2 separate regions of the Homo sapiens genome follow, and region 1 is linked to region 2. The links come from fine-mapping of genetic effects on gene expression. A gene starts in region 2. The other region holds a variant in brackets. All regions are shown on one strand. Distances are between the middles of the regions.

The links.
Region 1: its variant is fine-mapped to the expression of AMT in whole blood (TOPMed, PIP 0.95).

Annotation. Positions count from the first base shown.
Region 1 is chr3:49,332,263-49,344,383 of GRCh38, reverse strand. It overlaps USP4 (ubiquitin specific peptidase 4), which reads left to right and starts at 4,331. Exons shown (of 22, transcript NM_003363.4): 1 at 4,331-4,460; 2 at 8,788-8,915. The coding sequence starts at 4,360. RefSeq lists enhancers at 3,711-3,770, 3,861-4,030, 3,661-4,160 and a silencer at 4,201-4,390. The variant C/G (reference allele first, on the strand shown) is at 4,349.
Region 2 is chr3:49,417,612-49,425,611 of GRCh38, reverse strand. It overlaps AMT (aminomethyltransferase), which reads left to right and starts at 3,139. Exons shown (of 9, transcript NM_000481.4): 1 at 3,139-3,251; 2 at 3,341-3,508; 3 at 4,040-4,120; 4 at 5,270-5,401; 5 at 5,824-5,902; 6 at 6,207-6,352; 7 at 6,461-6,641; 8 at 7,639-7,794; 9 at 7,894-8,000. The coding sequence starts at 3,162. It overlaps NICN1 (nicolin 1, tubulin polyglutamylase complex subunit), which reads left to right. Exons shown (of 6, transcript NM_032316.3): 4 at 174-245; 5 at 559-663; 6 at 738-3,279. The coding sequence ends at 779. RefSeq lists enhancers at 2,758-3,511, 3,512-4,264, 7,236-7,954.

The DNA.
Region 1 (12,121 bases), 83 kb after region 2:
GCACGATCCTGGCTCACCACAACCTCTGCCTCCCAGGTTCCAGCGATTTTCCTGCCTCAGCCTTCTGAGTAGCTGGGATTACAGGCCCATGCCACCACGCCCAGATAATTTTTGTATTTTTAGTAGAGATGGGGTTTCGCCATGTTGGTCAGGCTGGTCTCGAACTCCTGACCTCCTGATCCGACTGCCTTGGCCTCCTAAAGTGCTGGGATTACAGGCATGAGCCACTGCGCCCGGCCACCCCCACCATTTAAATCAAACAAACTGGCTAACAAAGTTTAAAGACTTTGTAAATAATGGTGACCTTGTAGTCCGGGCACGGTGGCGCATGACTGCAATCCCAGCACTTGGGAGGCGGAGGATCACTTGAGGCCAGGAGTTCAAGACCAGCCTGGGCAACATGGTGAAACTCCATCTATACTAAAAATATGAAAATTAGCTAGGTATGGTGATGCAGACCAGTAGTCTGGTTAGCTAGGCATGGTGATGCAGACCAGTAGTCCCAGCTATTTGGGAGGCTGAGGTAGGAGGATCACTTGAGCCCAATAGGTCGAGGCTGCAAGTGAGCCATGATTATACCACTGCACTTTAGCCTGGGCAACAAAGACTCTGTCTCAAAAAAAAAAAAAAAAAAAAAAAAGGTGATCTTCCAACTATGGAATTCACTTTATTCTTCACATTTCAACTACCAGCATTTTGTAATCTTTTATTTATTTATTTTTCTTTTTTTCCCTCCAAATACCCAGATATCAAGAAGAATATTTTGCAATCCTAATATTAATTTTTAAGGGCTACCAATAATTAGTGCGCTATTTTTATAGCTATTAAAAGCACTAAATTCCTGACTTAAAAATATTGTCCAAATTTTTCATTTTTATAATTAGGTTTTGTCCCCTTTTCTAGTGGTGCTGAGGACTTGTCCTACTTGTCTTCCTTAAGACTGCCATAAATGGTTTGGTGAAACTGCTAAAAAAAGAAGAGGGAAGCAGACACCCTGAAATGTAGATTCTGAACCGATGTCAGTAACCAACTTTTTTTTTTTTTTGAGACAGAGTCTCTCTCTGTCACCCAGCCTGGAGTGCAGTAGTGCGATCTTGACTCACTGCTACCTCCATCTCCCAGTTTCAAGTGATTCTCCTACCTTAGCCTCCTGAGTAGCTGGGATTACAGGTGCTCGCCACCATGCCCAATTAATTTTTGCATTTTTAGTAGAGACAGGGTTTCACCACATTGGCCAGGCTGGTCTCGAACTCCTGACCTCAGGCGATCCGCCTGCCTTGGCTTTCCAAAGCCAAAGTGCTGGGATTACAGGCGTGAGCCACCACGCCTGGCCTCAACTTTCTTTTTCCATAAATAACAGGACTAAAGGTAGTGTTTCTTTTTTGATAACATTTTTAAGAGTTTCAGCCGGGCACGGTGCCTCACACCTTTAATCCCAGCACTTTGGGAGGCTGAGGCCAGTGGATCATGAGGTCAGGAGTTTGAGACCAGCCTGCCCAACATGGTGAAACCCCATCTCTACTAAAAATACAAAAATTAGCCAGGCGTGGTGGCGCACACCTGTAATTCTAGCTACTCAGGAGGCTGAGGCAGGAGAATCGCTTGATCCAGGGAGGCAGAGGTTGCAGTGAGCTGAGATTGCCCCACTGCACTCCAGCCTGGGGGACCCAGCAAGACTCCATCTCAGAAAAAACAACAAAACAAAACAAAACAAAAACGAGTTTCAAAGAACTTTCATAGAAGGGGACTTGTTAGGGTTGGCTCTGCAGATGTAGAATCATCATGTGGTGGTGGTAACTCTTATCTACAGGGGATTAATTACTATGTGGTTATTTAAGGCAGTTTTAATTCCATATTTACTTTCTCCTACTATCTACCCAATTGCCAAGAGGCCTTTCTTATCAGATGGTGTGTGATGGATGACCCAGGGAGTGCAAATTAATTTCAATTGGCCAAACCCAACATAAAAATAGTAAATCTGTTCAAATGACCTACCGTATTTTCACTGGGCCAGTTCCCCTTCCTTCACCCCCGACACAAAACATAGCTCATCTTTTCAACAGGAATAGGTAGAAAAATAAGAATAATAAAATAAAATAGACATGGCTTCTCTGTTTCTCCTCTTCTCCCTCACAGCCACCTCCATAGTGAGAGGTTCCTAATGGTTCTGTGTCTGAGTTACACCACCGTGGGCGTGAAGCACCCTCAGCCATTTTGTCTCTGCTTCAAAACTTCCTATAATGCCTGCCTGCCTTTTAAGGCAGGATATATGGTCTGTCTGGCCTCCTTTCTAGCTTTAGATCCCCTTAGGCTGTTGTAGCGTTGTAGTGCCCGCCTCAACTGGCCTAATCCCCACTCTCTGATCCTGTCCTGCCTTTTCCAGAAATTATCTTCTGGTCCCTTGAGTCTCCCCTCCTGTAACATGCATCCTCATCTTTATTCTGCCAGCATTTTTTTTCAATACCACACTCAAATGTTACTCAAGTCAAAGGCTTCCTATGAGAGCAGGGGTTGTGCCTGGCGTTCTACAGCCTTTGGTTCACACCCCCTTTTTTTTTTAGAGGGGGTCTTGCTCTGTTGCCCAGGCTGGAGTGCAGTGGCGCAATCTCGGCTCACTGCAACCTCTGCCTCCCAGGTTCAAGCGATTCTTCTGCCTTAGCCTCCCGAGTAGCTGAGACTAGGTGTGGGCCACCACTAACGGCTAATTTTTTTTTTTTTTTTTGTATTTTTAGTAGAGAAGGGGTTTCACCATATTAGCCACGCTGGTCTCGAACTCCTAACCTCGTGATCTGCCCGCCTCGGCCTCCCAAAGTCCTAGGATTACAAACATGAACCACCGCGCCGGACGCCCGGTCTTTTTTTTTTTTTTTTTTTAAGACATTTCGGTCTCCACGTTGGTCAGGCTGGTCTCGAATGCCCGACCTCAGGTGATCCTCCTGCCTCGGCCTCCCAAAGTGCTGGGATTACAGGTGTGAGCCACCGCGCCCGGCCGGTTCACACCCTTTATTTGTATTTATTTTTTTTTTTTTGAGACAGGGTCTCACTTTGCCGTCCAGTCTCAAGTGCAGTGGCGCCATCTCGACTCACTGCAACCTCGACCTCCTGGGCTCAAGGGATCTTCCTACCTCAGCCTCCCAAGTACCTGGGACCACAGACGCGAGCCACTGCCCGGCTATTTTTTGTATTTTTTTGTAGAGACGGGATTTCGCTATGTTGCCGAGGTTGGTCTCTAACTCCTGGGCTGAACCTATCCTTCCGCCTCAGCCTCCCAAAGTGCTGGGACGACAGGCTTGAACCACCGCGCCCGGCCTGGTTCACACACTTTAATGGCACTTACCACATACTGCTAGGCATTGAGGTTATTTCTGTAACATCTCTTCTTTTCTACTAGATTCTATGAGGGCAGGAACTAGGTCTTATTTTTCTCTGAGGACAAGGACTGTTAGACAAGTGTATGGAGACGCATCTAGACCAACTGCCTGACTTCCTCTTTCCTCTGGGTTTACTTCTCCCTCCAAGAGGAGGGTTGTGTGTGTGAGCGGGGCGACTGGAAAACATAGTGTTCAGGACGTTGTATCTTGTTCCAGGAACTAAGTACACGCCTGGGTAACTAATGTGGAGTACCTCTCCTTCCCCTGTTGCTATCGCCCCTCTGTGGCTGCTTGGCAAGTAGCTCAGTATGAAGAGCTGACGGAATTCTGCGGTGGGCCAGGTGGCTCTGGCGTCGACTGTTTAAGGCGACTGTTAATGACTACAACACACCATTGAGTCTTGGTCCCAAGGCGCTGGTGCACATGGTACTTCCCGAAATCCCTGTAGGGCCGCTGGAGCAGGAGCCCCGATCCCACGTTTGGGCAGCTGACTCGCCTAAGGCCTCCAGCTGAAAGCGGAATTGCAGGGGTGAGAATGAGCAGACCTAACTACCGGGCTTCTCGCACCTGGCCTGCATTTATTTAGGACCACGATAACCTCGAAGGCCAGGCTGGGGTGCCCGATGGGTCGTGGGCTTGCTGCCTAACTCCCTGAGATCGGCGGGCTGAACAGAGCTTCGAAGTGTAGCGCCATCCTGAGCAGAGGAAGGGGCGCCCGAAGGCCGCGTAGCGGGCGGCAGGGCGGGAGGAAGTAGCAGCTGCTGCTCCCCGCCCACCCCTCTCGCGTGTGCCTTTCCGCTCCACTGTTCGCCGGTGAGCTAGGTGGCGCGAGAGCGGAGGGGAGAAAAGACAGCGGCTGCAGGAGCCGAAGGCCGCGGCTCGAGGTGGGGCAGGGGCGGGCACGCGAGCGTGCGTGCGTGGGCGCGGTCTATAGCACGCCGCGCGCGGGGCGGATGTCCGGGCCGGCTGGGCCGGGG[C/G]CGCGGAGGAGATGGCGGAAGGTGGAGGCTGCCGTGAGCGACCGGATGCGGAGACTCAGAAGTCCGAGCTTGGACCCTTAATGAGGACCACACTCCAACGCGGGGCGCAGTGGTGAGCTCCCGGCTCGCTCTTCCTCTATGCAGAACCAGGGGCCGAGAAAAAGGGGCCTCCTTTTTCTCGGCTAGAGTAGGGGCTGGGCGGGGATGGTATGTAGTGACCCTGGAAGAGTAGCCTGACACCTGCCCCTCAGGAGAATAACTCCAGGATCAGCTCTGGGAAAGCGCAGGCGGGGCCTGAGTGTCGTCTCAGTTCATTTGGAGCCCTAGGGGGCGGGCCCGGCGGGGGCCAGGAGGAGGGATGTGGAGAAGGGGAAGGTTGGTGGGGACCCTAAGGGTGGGGAGAGCCCTTTACCATGAGGACTCGCCGTGTGACCTTGGGCGAAGGTGTCACAGACCTGGATTCCTCACTGTTAAAACCAGGATAGCAATATTTGGCTCACCGACCTCAGTGGGTTGAGGGGAAAATCAGAAGTAGATACTTTGTAACTTGTAAACTGCCAACAGATGTCAAGGTCAGAAGCTGAACAAATGTCTGAGAACCCCGATTATTTTGGTAGCAAGTGTCAAAAATATTTGCGGCAGCAGTGTCTTGGAGTGGGAGAGGAGGATAGCCTAGGTCCTGGAGCTAGATAGAAGATGAAGGGTCCAGAATTTAGAAGACCCAGGCTGAGTTATTAGGCATCTTAATAGATTGTTTAGTAGAGGGGACAATACTTTGTACTACTGGAGAGATTCCTGGGTGGTGTAATTGTGTAGGAGTAGAAAAACTAAGGCTAGACTTTGCATCGAGTATGATTGTTACCCATCTTGTTTGTTTTGTTTTGTTTTGAGATGGAGTTTCACTCTTGTTGCCCAAGCTGGAGTGCAGTGGCGTGATCTTGGCTCACGGCAACCTCCGCCTCCCGGGTTCAAGCGATTCTCCTGCCTCAGCCTCCCGAGTAGCTGGGATTACAGGCTCACGCCACCACACCCAGCTAATTTTTTGTATTTTTAGTAGAGACCGGGTTTCACCATGTTGGGTAGGCTGGTCTCAAACTCTTGACCTTATGATCCACCCGCCTCGGCCTCCCAAAGTGCTGGGATTACAGGTGGGAGCCACCGTGCTCGGCCCGAGTGTTACCTATCTTTAAGAAATCATTGTGGTGATGATCTGCCGAGGAATTGAGCAGGAGAATAGAAAAATTGGGGTTAGGAGGAGTACAGATAACAGCTTATGTATTCACCTTGAGCTAACCAGTTTGTGAAAGGCAGGGTAAACAGAGGTACTTTTTTTGTGTTTTCTTTTCTTTTCTTTTCTTTTTTTTTTTTTTTTTGAGAAGGAATTTCGCTCTTGTTGCCCATGCTGGAGGGCAATGGCGCGATCTCGGGTCACGGCAACCTCCCCCTCCCATGTTCAAGCGATTCTCCTGCCTCAGCCTCCCCAGTAGCTAGGATTACAGGCATGCGCCACCACGGCCGGCTAATTTTTTTTGTATTTTTAGTAGAGACGGGGTTTCTCCATTTTGGTCAGGCTGGTCTCGAATTCCAGATCTCAGGTGATCGCCCGCTGTGGCCTCCCAAAGTGCTGGGATTACAGGCGGAAGCTACTGCGCCCGGCCTAGCAGAGGTACTTTTTAAGTTAACCTCTATAGGGTTCATAAAGAATACTCAGCAGAAGTAGAGGAAGTTTAAGATAGACTAAAATCATACAGTAAAATTGTATGGAAGGTATTGCTCAAGGGATTTGGAAGAAAAATAGCATTTTAGAGATGGATGTGTTTATGGATCCTTGTGACCTCTGGGAAGCTGCCTGACCTCCTCTCACATTTGTTGGTTATAAAATTTTAAGGATGCACCAATATAATTGTTGATGCTTTGTTGCTCCACAGAGATTGTTTTAATTGTAAAACAGCATAGAGATACTTTTTTTTTTTTTTTTTTTTTTTTTTTTTGAGACGAAGTCTCGCTGCATCACCAGGCTGGAGTGCAGTGGCGCGATCTCGGCTCACTGCAATCTCTGCCTCCCGGGTTCAAGCGATTCTCCTGCTTCAGCCTCCCGAGTAGCTGGGATTATAGGCATGCACCACCATGCCCCGCTAATGTTTGTATTTTTAGTAGAGACAGGGTTTCACCATGTTGGCCAGGATGGTCTCGATCTCCTGACCTCGTGATCCACCTGACTCAGCCTCCCAAAGTGCTGGGATTACAGGCGTGAGCCACCGCTCCCGGCCAGCACAGTGATACTTTAAAAATATAAACAGGTCTGGTGCAGTGGCTCATGCCTGTAATCCCAGCACTTTGGGAAGCTGAGGCAGGAGGATCACTTGAGGCCAGGAGTTCAAGACCAGCCTGGGCAACATAGCAAGAGCTAGCCTCTACAAAATAAAAATAAAAAAATAAATTAGCCAGGCATGGTGGTATGTGCCTATAGTCACAGCTACTCAGAGGCTGAGGCAGGAGGATCACTTGAGCCCAGGAGTTTGAGGCTACAGAGAGCTATGATTGTGCCACTGCACTCTAGCCTGGGTGACCCTCTCTCTAAGGAAATAAATAGGTAAATAAAATACCACATTTGCTTACATTTAAGTAAAAAAGTGGTAAGTTGAATATGAAGCACAAATTAATGCTTTTTGACAAGATGAACAATAGGCACTATTATATGTACATGTGTATGTGTATATTTATATATGTACACGCATGTTATGTACTTTTTTTTTTTTGACAGGGTTTTATTCCTGTCACCCAGGCTAGAGTGCAATGGCATGATCTCAGCTCACTGCAACTTCTGTCTTCCGGGTGCAAGTGATTCTTGTGCCTCAGCCTCCCGAGCAGCTGGGACTACAGGCATGTGCCACCACGCTCAGCTAATTTTTGTAATTTTAGTAGAGATGGGGTTTGTTGCCCAGGCTGGTCTTGAACTCCTGAGCTCAAGTGACCATCCACCTCGGCCTCTCAAAGTGCTGGGATTACAGGTGTGAGCCACTGCGCCTGGCCTTGTGTGTACATTTTTGGAACTCCTTTGGTCCTTAAAGGAAAACTGAAGTGGGTGGTGTTTCTAACCCATTTTCAGAAAGAGCATTAGTTTAGTGCTGTTCATGTCAAGCAAAACAGTGTAACCAAACTGTCTGCCTGGAGTGGGACTTCTGTAAAGATCATTATGAAATTAATGACTTGTGGCCGGGTGCGGTGGCTCACGCCTGTAATCACAGCACTTTGGGAGGCCGAGGTGGGCAGATTACCTGAGGTAGGGAGTTTGAGACTGTCCTGACCAACATGGAGAAACCCTGTCTCTACTAAAAATACAAAATTAGCCAGGTGTGGTGGCACACACCTGTAATCCCAGCTACGGGAGACTGAGGCAGGAGAATCACTTGAACCCGGGAGGCGGAGGTTGCGGAGAGCCGAGATCACACCATTGCACTCCAGCCTGGGTAACAAGAGCGAAACTCTGTCTCAAAAAAAAAAGAAGTTAATGACTTGTTTATTAGCAAACATGATTTTACCCATGAAAAGACTCCATTTAGACTGAGTGTGGTAGCTCATGCATGTAATCACAGCACTTTGGGAGGCCAAGGCAGGAGGATCACCTGAGATCAGGAGTTCGAGACCAGCCTGGCCAACATGGTGAAACTCCATCTCTACTAAAAATACAAAAAAATTAGCTGGGCCTGGTGATGCATGCCTGTAATCCCAGCTACTTGGGAGGCTGAGGCAGGAGAATTGCTTGAACCCAGGAGGTGGAGGTTGTAGTGAGCCAAGATCATACCACTGCACTCCAGCTTGGGCAACAAGAGCGAAAACTCCGTCTCAAAAAAAAAAAAAAAAAAAAAAGAGGCCAGGTGCAGTGGCTCATGCCTGTAATCCCAGCACTTTGGGAGGCCGAAGTAGGCGGATCACCTGAGGTCAGGAGTTTGAGACCAGCCTGCCCAACATGGTGAAACCCCGTCTCTACTAAAAATACAAAAATTAGCTGGGAGTGGTGACAGGTGCCTGTAATCCCAGTTAGTCAGGAGGCTGAGGCAGGAGAATCGCTTGAACCTGGGAGGCAGAGGTTGCAGTGAGCCAAGATTGTGTCACTATACTCCAGCCTGGGCGACAGAACAAGACTCCGTCTAAAAGAAAAAAAAAGAAAGACTGCATTTAAATAAGCATTTTGAAACCACTTGTTTTCTTTCTTTTATTCACTCTTTGAACAATCATTTCACTTAATGGATGCATACCCTGGGCCAGACTCTCTGTGCCATGTGGGGCCTGGGCCCTGCTCTTGCTCTTGTGACAGTGTTTTTTAGTGGGTATTGCATATGCCCCAAGTGGAAGGACCATAAAAAAGATTAAGGAAGCAGCTGCAGAAATTTATAATCTCAGCTTTTCTGCTACAGTAAATTTCTGTCTCTCTCTAGGTATCTTATTGACAGCCGGTGGTTCAAGCAGTGGAAGAAGTATGTGGGCTTTGACAGCTGGGACATGTACAATGTGGGTGAACATAACCTATTTCCTGGCCCAATAGACAACTCTGGGCTATTTTCAGGTATAGTAAATGTTGCTTTTCTAGCTAAACATTCACCTGGGCAGTGGCCTGATGTTATGTGCATCTGTAACATGGACGTTGTGAACTTTCCTAGTGTGAGGAGATAGAAACAAGTATCCTCATTTTGCATCTATAGCAGAAGTCTTTGCAAACCCTTAATGAGAAGTTAAGCTACTTTTTTCCCTTAAATTAACTGCATCTGATAAGAGTATGCTTCTAACATTTTAACTTTCTCTCTTTGCAAATTAGTTCTGCTAGCTATTTCACATTTTAAGTTAGTATATGGAATGGAAAGAAATAGGATGTCATTTTGAAATTGTATCTAAAATTTAAGAACCAGAATTTTTTGTTACCTTTGCAGTGGAACAAATTGTAAACCTGTGAACTTTCATCAAGAATTCCTGTGATGGCTGTTTTTATCATATAACTAGTGTGAGGAGAGGTTGAAGGTCAGTAGACAGAGTTATGACTGTAGTCAGCTCCCAATGGGAACTGTGGGAAAAGCGACATGTAACACACTAGAGCTTGCTTGCACTTGTACATGCACTGAGATGACAGAGTCAGCTTTTCCCAGGCTTTCTTTTGCCTGACTTCAGACCTCTTTAAAGTCATGATAGAGGTGATCTGTCATGGGTGTCAAAAATCAGGGCAGTGCCAGGAGTGGTGTCTCACGCCTGTAATCTCAGCACTTTGGGAGGCCAAGGCAGGTGGATCACCTGAGGTCAGGAGTTCGAGACCAGCCTGGCCAACATGGTGAAACCCCGTCTCTACCATGTTGGCTAGGCTGGCCTTGAGCTCCTGGGCTCAAGCTATCTTCCTGCCTCAGCCTCCTTAGTCACTGAGACTACAGTGTTCTACCACTCTCAGCTGTTTTTTAAGTTTTTTGGTAGAGACGGGGTCTTGCTATGTTGCCCAGGCTGGTTGAACTCCTGGCCTCAAGCCATCCTCCCACCTTGGCTTCCCAGAGTGTTGGTGTGAGCCACTGTGCCTGGCCTAACTTGGATATTTTTAAAACTGAGCAATGCTTCAGCTCAGACCTTGTTTTAGGAGAGGTCTACATGGTATAAACAATATCATTTACTTTGTTTCCTGAAATAGGTCAAATGGTGGCACTATGCCACGAAGTTGCCCTAAGGAATCATTTCATTATGTTCACATTTTGTTCTTTTTCTCATTTTTATGAAATGGAGAATTCTTAAGGTTTTAAATTCAGGCATACTTTGGCTTATTGTGCTTTGCTTTATTATATGTTGCAGATACTGCATTTTTAGCAAATTTTGTAGGTATTTGGCAACGCTGCCTTGACAATCTGTCAGTTCCATTTTTACAACAGCATGTGCTCACTTCATGTCTCTGTTACCACATTTTGGTAATTCTCAAAATACTTCAAAGTTTTTCATTATTATTTGTTATGGTGATCAGTGATCAGGGAGCTTTCTTTTTTTTTTTGAGACGGAGTTTTGCTCTTGTTGCCCAGGCAGGAGTGCAGTGGCATGATCGTGGCTCATGGCAACCTCCACCTCTTGGGTTCAAGTGATTCTCCTGCCTCAGCCTCCCGAGTAGCTAGGATTACAGGCATGTGCCACCACGCCCGGCTAATTTTGTATTTTTAGTAGAGATGGGGTTTCTCCATGTTGGTCAGGCTGGTCTTGAACTCCCGACCTCAGCCTCCCAAAGTGCTGGGATTACAGGCATGAGCCACCATGCCCAGCCAACAGGGATCTTTCATGTTGCTATTGTAATTGTTTTGGGGCATCATGAAGGGAGCCCATGTAAGACAGTGAACTTAATTGGTAATTATTGTGTGTATTCTCGCTGCTTCACCAACCAGCCATTCCATCTCTCTCTCTCTCCTCAGGCTTTGCTATTGCCTGAGACACAATGACACTGAAATTCGGCCACTTAGTAACCCTAACAACGTCTTCTAAATGTTCAAGTGAAAAGGAGAATTGCATGTCTCTCACTTCAAATCAAAGCTAGAAATGATTTGAGTTTGGTTAAGGAAGCCGAAATAGGTTGTAAGCTAGGCCTCTTGTGCCATATAGCTAGCCAAGTTGTGAATGTAAATGTAAACCTCCTGGACTTAAGTGATCCTTCCACCTCAGCCTCCTGAGTAGCTAGGACTACAGGTGCTTGCCAGCATTCCTGGCTCATTTTTGTATGTGTTTATTTTTTCTTTTTGTAGAGATGGAGTTTTGTCATGTTGCCTGGGAGATGGAGGAACCCAGGAAATGGTGGTTTCAGTGAGCTGAGATTGCGCCACTGCACTCCACTCCAGCTTGGGCGACAGAAGTGAGACTCCATCTCAAAAAAAAAAAAAAAAAGTGCTACTCTAGTGAACACATGAATTATAAGAGGCTGAAACAGCCTTATTATTGCTGATATGGAGAAAGTTTATTCATTTATTTTTTTTTTTGAGACAAGGTGCCATCTTGTCTCAAAAAAAAAAAAGGTAGCTACTGCTACCTCGTGCAGTAGCACAATCACACCTCACTACAACCTTGACCTTCCCAGGCTCAGGTGATCCTCCCATCTCAGCCTCCTGAGTAACTGGAACTACAGGCCCCACCACACTCGACTAATTATTGTATTTTTTGCAGAGATTTTTTGTGGGTTTTGTCATGTTGTTCAGGTTGATCTTGAATTCCTGGGCTCAAGCAATCCTCCCGCCTTGACGTCCCAGAGTGCTGGGATTACAGGTGTGAGTCACTGTGCCCAGGCTAAACAACAGGTTTTATTTTATTTTATTTTTATTTATTATTATTATTTTTTTGAGACAGAGTCTCACCATGGGGTTTCACCATGTTGGCCAGGCTGGTCTCAAACTCCTGACCTTAAGTGATCCGCCTGCCTCGGCCTCTCAAAGTGCTGGGATTACAAGCATGAGCTACTGTGCCTGGCCTAAACAACAGATTTTAAATGTAGACAAAACACCCTTCTATTGGGAAGATGCCATCTACCTCTTTGCTGCTAGAGGGGAAAAGTCAGTGCCTGGGTTCAGAGCCTTTTTTTTTTTTGAGACAGGGTCTTGCCCTGTCACCCAGGCTGTAGTGTGTGATCACAGCTCACTGCAGCCTTAACCTCCTGGGCTCAAGTGATCCTCCCACCTCAGCCTCCTGAGTAGCTAGGACTACAGTTGCTTGCCACCATGCCTGGCTGATTTTTATATGTTTGTTTGTTTGTTTGTTTTGTAAGACAGAGTCTCG
Region 2 (8,000 bases):
GCAGGAGAACTTAGGTAGTCTGACTGCCTCTTTAGGTCTCTGTGGGCTCCCTAAACAGGGTTTTCCCAGTGTCTGAGGCCCAGCGGCCCTTCTCTCTGCTCCTAGGACCTTGGAATCTGGTCCCAGAGCTGTCCACTTTGTCTCACTCAGGGCAGTACATCTTTGCTTTGCAGAGCCCCTCCGTGACCTTTCCCAAGTGGCTCTCCCACCCAGTGCCCTGTGAGCAACCTGCACTCCTCCGTGAGGTAAGCCCTCACCCTAGGTAAGAACCATGTGTGAATGGCTCTAGTGTCCAACACAGGCCAGGTAGACCCCTTCCTGTAAAATTCTGGGGCTGGGCCCAGGGCCCTTGGGTGTTATCTTCCTCCTGGGTATTCTGTGGGATTTGAGGCATCTCTGTTGTGGGGCTACATCAGGCCCTAACCTCATGTTTCATAAGCCATCTGAGAATGTTGTTGGTCTCAGCTGGAGGGCCCCTAGCCCAGGTTGGCCTCTCTGGAGCCTGAAGGGCACTGCTGGGGAGAGACCCATGGCCACTGACCCCTCCTTCTGGAGCAGGGTCTCCCAGACCCCAGCAGGGTATCCTCCGAGGTGCAGCAGATGTGGGCACTGACAGAGATGATCCGGGCCAGTCACACCTCCGCAAGGATCGGCCGCTTTGATGTAAGTAATCGCTTCCTTCTGCTTGGCTTGCTTTGCCCTGAGCAGATCAGACCTGATGGTCTTTTGTATTTCAGGTGGATGGCTGTTATGACCTGAACTTGCTCTCCTACACTTGAATGGTTGCTCCTAGCCAAGATGTTGGCCTTTCTGTGCCCACCCAGACTTGGTTTGGGCCACCAGAGGCTGAAGTGTATTTCCTGTGCATTCCAAGTGTTGCCTGCATGCCTGTTCTGTCTGGGCCACATTCACAGATTCAGGATTCTCAGGGGCTTACCGTGTTACTTCAGCATGAGCTCCTGGCATGGGGGTGCTCTGTCTTCGCCTGGCTGCAACTCAATTCTTCCTTCTACCCAAAAACACTCCAGTCAGTTGTACTTACTGAGAATCCCTGAGTGCCCTCTGCCCCTTCTGGCAACATGCACATTCCTGTCTTCTGCCTGCTCCCTCATGTCAGTGCAGTTGGGCTGGGCTGACCTACTAAAACCTGCTCCATGTATGGACCTGGAAGGCCATTGCTGCCATGGCACTTGGGACACTTGAGGAAGAAACAGAAACCTTATTTCTTCCTGTGTGTCCCCTAGTGGTTTTCTTTCCATTTGTGTTATGCCACAGAGAGAAATTTCCTGTCTGAACTCTTCTGCTGCCTGCCTAGGAAGGAAACCTGAAGATTTGGGCAGCCTGAGTCTCTTGGTTTCTGAGCTGGCTCCTGAATATATGTTCAAGTGGGTGTGCCCATAGGGCCTGGGCACGTGTCTCTAGCAAAACCAGGGCCTGAGCATAAGAACTGGGACCCTTCTAGGCAGGGTGCAGTGGCTCACGCCTGTAATCCCAGCACTTTGGGAGGCCCAGGCAGGCGGATCACCTGAGGTCAGGAGTTCAAGACCAGCCTGACCAACCTGGAGAAACCCCGTCTCTACTAAAAATACAAAAAATTAGCTGGGCGTGGTGGTAGGCACCTGTAATCCCAGCTACTTGGGAGGCTGAGGCAGGAGAATCTCTTGAACCCGGGAAGTGGAGGTTGCGGACCTGAGATCATGCCATTGCACTCCAGCCTGGGCAAGAAGAGCGAAACTCCATCTTAAACAAACAAACAAAAAAAAAAGAACTGGGACCCTTCTGCCATCTGACATAGCCCAAAGCACATCTCTATCCTTTCTCCCAGTTGCCCCTCTCCTTTTTTGTTGTTTTTTTTGAGGTTGAGTTTTGCTCTTGTTGCCCAGGCTGGAGTGCAATAGTGCAATCTTGGCTAACTGCAACCTCCGCCTCCCAGGTTCAAGCAATTCTCCTGCCTCAGTCTCCCGAGTAGCTGGGATTACAGTCATGCATCACCATGCCTGGCTAATTTTGTATTTGTAGTAGAGATGGGGTTTCTCCATGTTGGTCAGGCTGGTCTCAAACACCTGACCTCAGGTGATCTGCCTGCCTTGGCCTTCCAAAGTGCTGGGATTACAGGCATGAGCCACCGCGCCCGCCCTGCCCCTTTCCAAGAGATATGCTCAGCATAATGAGAGATCAACCGTGGTGGGGAGTGGGTCCAAGTAAGGGTTCTCATTGTTGCCTTTTAAGAGGCCTAAGTCCTGCATTAACTCAGTCCAACCATTAAGTGATGCAGGCTGCTCTTCCCTCATGTGAGAAAAACCTGTTTCCCTCTGGTTCTTCCTGGCTTTGCACCTGGTGGCTATTACAAAGCAGTACTGCAGTATGTCTTGGACCTGGAAAGTTGGACATGTGTGTGGCTCAACAGTTTTCTCGGGGGAGTTCAGTGACCTTTTGGTGGCCACCCTCTGTTCTCACCTGTGAGTTCTTGCAGGTGGCGACTTCATCTGCAAGGTCACTTACATAGCCCCACTCAGCTGCTTCGGAAAGCGTGACGAAGCAGTAGTCCTCAGTGTGTGTGTAAGTGAAGAGGACCTTGTGGTAGCAGGGACCATGCTTCATTCGTGGCTGTGTCCCCATCTGAGGGCCTGGTATGCAGTAAGATCAATAAATACTTGTGGAATGCATGACTGCTGGCTGCCTGTGTCTGCCTGGTGGGAGAGCTGTGGAACTAGGGGTCCACATGAGGACAGACTACTGTGGTGCTGCCTACCTGCCAGGCTGGCCCACCTTCCCCACCCCCACTTGACCTTACTCTCTTGAGGTCCTAAAGGTATGATTCAGACCTTTCAGCCCTTTCCAGAACTTTGACCCTCTGGAGACAGGGCGGTTCTGCAGGGGGCGGTCTAGCCCCTAGCTTTGTTCTGGGCAGCCCAATCAGCTCTGGATTGCCCGAGCTGCCCTGAAGAGTCAGCCGAAAGAGCTGGAGGCTTCTTCCCTGTGGTTGCGGGTTCCTGCATTCTCTGCTCTAAATCCCAGCCTGCCCTTGGGGCTGCCCACGCCCCCTTCAGATCCTTTGCTCCGGAGAGAGACCTGTCCGAGCAGAGGCCTGGACTACATCTCCCGGCGTGCCTGGCAGTGTGGTGGCCTCTGTGCGCCGTCTGCACTCGTTGCAGGCGACGATGCAGAGGGCTGTAAGTGTGGTGGCCCGTCTGGGCTTTCGCCTGCAGGCATTCCCCCCGGCCTTGTGTCGTCCACTTAGTTGCGCACAGGTGGGATAGAGGGTGCTGATCTTGGAGGGTGGGGGAGGGAAGCGGCTGGGGGCTAGGGCCCTGGTGGCACTAAGCCCAGCCGCCCACAGGAGGTGCTCCGCAGGACACCGCTCTATGACTTCCACCTGGCCCACGGCGGGAAAATGGTGGCGTTTGCGGGTTGGAGTCTGCCAGTGCAGTACCGGGACAGTCACACTGACTCGCACCTGCACACACGCCAGCACTGCTCGCTCTTTGACGTGTCTCATATGCTGCAGGTGAGCCAGGGGAGCACACTGGCCATCTGATCAGGCCTTCCTCCCTGTTTACAGTGGTCCACTCCTTGGCTTTGTTTGCTGTGAACTGGATTCCAAGGACAGCCTTCTCAGAAGAGCTAGAGGTCATGGGGGTGTCATGGATAGGTCAATGGCCCCAAGGAAATGAGCTCAGAGGGTCTCATCATCTCATCCTTCTAGCTTGCCCCCATTAAATGGTGTGCCTTAATGTCCCGGGTTTTCCAGGGCTGACACCCACTCTCATGTATTGGGCTGGATGTTGGTTTGAAAAGGGGTTATTTCAGGAAGGTGCTAGGTCCTGTCCAGTTCCCTGGCAGTCCCCCCACACAGAGTGACTGGGGGAGGTCAGGAAATCAGAAGGTGGTCCTTTGCCACGTGTAGAACCAAAAGACTGGTTAGTCACTTTGGGTGGGCTGGACTGCACTGTGGATGGCAGGGAGGATGCATCCTTGCTTAGTAGCCTTTTGGATTGTAGCTGTTGCAATGGCCTGAGGCTTTCAATCTCTTCCCCAGACCAAGATACTTGGTAGTGACCGGGTGAAGCTGATGGAGAGTCTAGTGGTTGGAGACATTGCAGAGCTAAGACCAAACCAGGTGGGCCCTTTTATTTCTGCTCTATGAGTTTTCTTAGTCATGAGCCAGCAAATGGGCTGAGTCCCTACCTCAGGCTTAGGGGCACAGAGATGAGTCAAACACAGCTTCTCAGGGCTTGCAGTCTTGGACAGAATCCCTGAGTCATTTCCAGAGACACAGACATTTGTAGGGAGGGGAATATCCCAGTCTTACTACATCAGGCTAGGAGGCCAGAAACCAAGGTTAATATGCTGCTCTCTGGCCATCCCTTCTGCTTAACCCCTCTCTATTCAACATGTGGTCCCTGGCCAGGCGACGTGACTCAAACACCTGTAATCCTGGCACTTGGGGAGGCCAAGGCGGGTGGATCACCTGAGGTCAGGAGTTCGAGACCAGCCTGGCCAACATGGCAAAACCTCGTTTCTACTAAAAACACAAAAATTAGCCGGGCGTGGTGGCGCGTGCTTGTAGTCCCAGCTACTCGGGAGGCTGAGGTTGCAGCAAGCTGAGGTTGCACCACTGCACTCTGGCCTGGGCAACAGAGTGAGACTCAGTCTAAAAAGAAAAATAACAACAACAAAGTGTGGTCTCTAAACCAGCATCTTTGGAGCTTGTTAGGAATATAGTCTCAGGCACTGCTGCAGACCTGCTGAATCAGAACCTTCATTTTAACAAGATCCCCAGGTGATTCATGTGACCCCCTCAACCTCAGGCTTTTTGTCCATCCAGTGGGGAGGCTAAGGAAGTTTTTTGGGGGCATTGCTATGGAGTACTTAGGAGAGCCTGCGATCATCAAGATGACCTTTGAAGCTTTTGTCCTGTGGGTTGCCACATGGGCTAAGTCGTCCCAGGTTTGGGTAGGTGAAGCAGCAGGTCCTAGGTGTCATAGATTAAGTGTCAGATGGGACTCTCAGTACAGAGTGGGGAGGGGTGCAGAGGTTGCACCAGATCAGGGAAGCACCCCAAGGTAGGGAGGGGATGAAAACTTACTTGATGCATGAGGATCAAAGACCTTGGACTTGGGCCCAGACTTGTACCTTGCACACCCTGAGTCCTTCACATTAGGGTTCATAACCTTTTGGTAACTAAGTGGGTCCAGGGTTGTGTCTGGCTCACCCTTGGCCTTGCCCTCCTGGACCTGGAAGCCAAAACGCTCCACTTTGGTCCTAGGGGACACTGTCGCTGTTTACCAACGAGGCTGGAGGCATCTTAGATGACTTGATTGTAACCAATACTTCTGAGGGCCACCTGTATGTGGTGTCCAACGCTGGCTGCTGGGAGAAAGATTTGGCCCTCATGCAGGTATACCCCCTCTGTGTTCTAGACACCTTGTCTTCCTTGTTCATAGAGCAGTATCCTTGTTGTCCAAGACAGGGTTGGCACAGACAAGGGACCTGGAAAATGGCTCTTTCAGTGAATGAACAGCTATGAGACTCAAGAGCAGGCCCTCTCTGGAGCACGCCAGGGTTTGGTGGTGGGGGATTACCAGGCATGGGGAGGGGGTCTTGGCCCCTCTGGTGTGAGGTGGCAGAACTGGGCTTGGGTCATCTCTATCACTTAGTAGCTATGTGACCTTGTAAGATGGGAACCAGCCTACTACCTTTTTTTTTCCTCCCTCCTCCTCCTCCTCTCCACTGTCCTACTACTGTCCAGCTCTGCAGCGTCCAGCCCATGGTAGCTGCTCAGTAAGTGGCCCCAGATGCTCTTGTGTTTCTGTCTTTTAGGACAAGGTCAGGGAGCTTCAGAACCAGGGCAGAGATGTGGGCCTGGAGGTGTTGGATAATGCCCTGCTAGCTCTGCAAGGTGAGAGGGCTGGGCTGGGGTTGGAGCCAACCTTTGCCTTCCTGGCTTCATTGACTGCTTAGCACAGAGGCCATACCAAGAAGAATGTGTGGAAGGTGTGATATTTGTGTGCCATAATTTTAAGTTTTGTATCTTGCCCTCCTCCTACCTACCACAAGGCTCCATGGGCTAGGGACAAGGGCATCTTCTCCCACTTGCAGAGTAAGACATGCTCAGGGCTTGTTCTGGTCCCTGAATAAGGCTTTAGTCCAGCTTTGAGGGATGCTGGGACCTGGATACTTGGTCACTGGCTCCCTGGGCCCAGGCCCCACTGCAGCCCAGGTACTACAGGCCGGCGTGGCAGATGACCTGAGGAAACTGCCCTTCATGACCAGTGCTGTGATGGAGGTGTTTGGCGTGTCTGGCTGCCGCGTGACCCGCTGTGGCTACACAGGAGAGGATGGTGTGGAGGTGTGTCAAGAAGTGGTGTGGGGGCAGTACAGGGCACAGGATGCATGTGAGGGGTTGGGGGTATGTGGTACAGGGAGCTTCCCATCTGCCCTCTGGTGTTTCATACAGATCTCGGTGCCGGTAGCGGGGGCAGTTCACCTGGCAACAGCTATTCTGAAAAACCCAGAGGTGAAGCTGGCAGGGCTGGCAGCCAGGGACAGCCTGCGCCTGGAGGCAGGCCTCTGCCTGTATGGGAATGACATTGATGAACACACTACACCTGTGGAGGGCAGCCTCAGTTGGACACTGGGTGAGCTGGGCCAGCACTAAAGGATAGGGTCCTGGAGGTCAGGGTGACCCTTGATAAGACTAGCCAGCCCATGACTCATCCAAAGGTTATGTAGCCTGAAGCCTTCCTGAGCCTCCCTTCCCTGAAGGTGCCACTGTGCCTTTGCCCATTAGAAACTGCAGATGTTGGCCGGATGCGGTGGCTCACATCTGTAATCCCAGCACTTTGGGAGGCCGAGGCGGGTGGATCACGAGGTCAGGAGATCAAGACCATCCTGGCTAACATGGTGAAACCCCGTCTCTACTAAAAATACAAAAAAAAAATTAGCTGGGCATTGTGGCGGGCGCCTGTAGTCCCAGCTACTCGGGAGGCTGAGGCAGGAGAATGGCATGAACCTGGGCGGCGGAGTTTGCAGTGAGCCGAGATTGCGCCACTGCACCTCCAGCCAGGGCGATAGAGCGAGACCCCGTCTCAAAAAAAAAAAAAAAAAAAAAAAAGAAACTGAAGATGCTGCCGGGCATGGTGGCTCACACCTGTAATCCCAGCACTTTGGGAGGCCAAGGTGGGTGGATCATGAGGTCAGGAATTCGAGAATAGCCTGGCCAACATGGTGAGACCCCGTCTCTACTGAAAATATAAAAATTAGCCAGGCGTGGTGGCGGGTGCCTGTTATCCCAGCTACTCGGGAGACTGAGGCAGGTAAATTGCTTGAACCTGGGAGGCAGAGTTTGCAGTGAGCTGAGATCGTGCCACTGCATTCTAGGCCTGGGCGACAGAGTGACTCCATCTCAAAAAAAAAAAAAAGAAACTGAAGACGCTCGGCAGGTGGGCAGCATGGCCTCCAGGGGATAGGAGGTGGTTGGTTGGCTGACGGCAGTGAAGGGAGGAATAGAGCCTGGAGTAGCCCAAGCAAAGGGGCCTTGATGCTAGATAGTGTGTTACTTGAGGACCTCATAAGGACCTCCTGTGGCCAGGGCTTCTATGGGCTGTGGCTTATGTCTCATGTGTCATTCTCCAGGGAAGCGCCGCCGAGCTGCTATGGACTTCCCTGGAGCCAAGGTCATTGTTCCCCAGCTGAAGGGCAGGGTGCAGCGGAGGCGTGTGGGGTTGATGTGTGAGGGGGCCCCCATGCGGGCACACAGTCCCATCCTGAACATGGAGGGTACCAAGATTGGTAGGTGGACCAGGGAAGCTGGGAAACCCTTGTCTCTTCCCAGGAGGGTGGGGGCACTGGCAGGGTGGTGCTGATGCGTGGCTTATGCTTGCTTGACAGGTACTGTGACTAGTGGCTGCCCCTCCCCCTCTCTGAAGAAGAATGTGGCGATGGGTTATGTGCCCTGCGAGTACAGTCGTCCAGGGACAATGCTGCTGGTAGAGGTG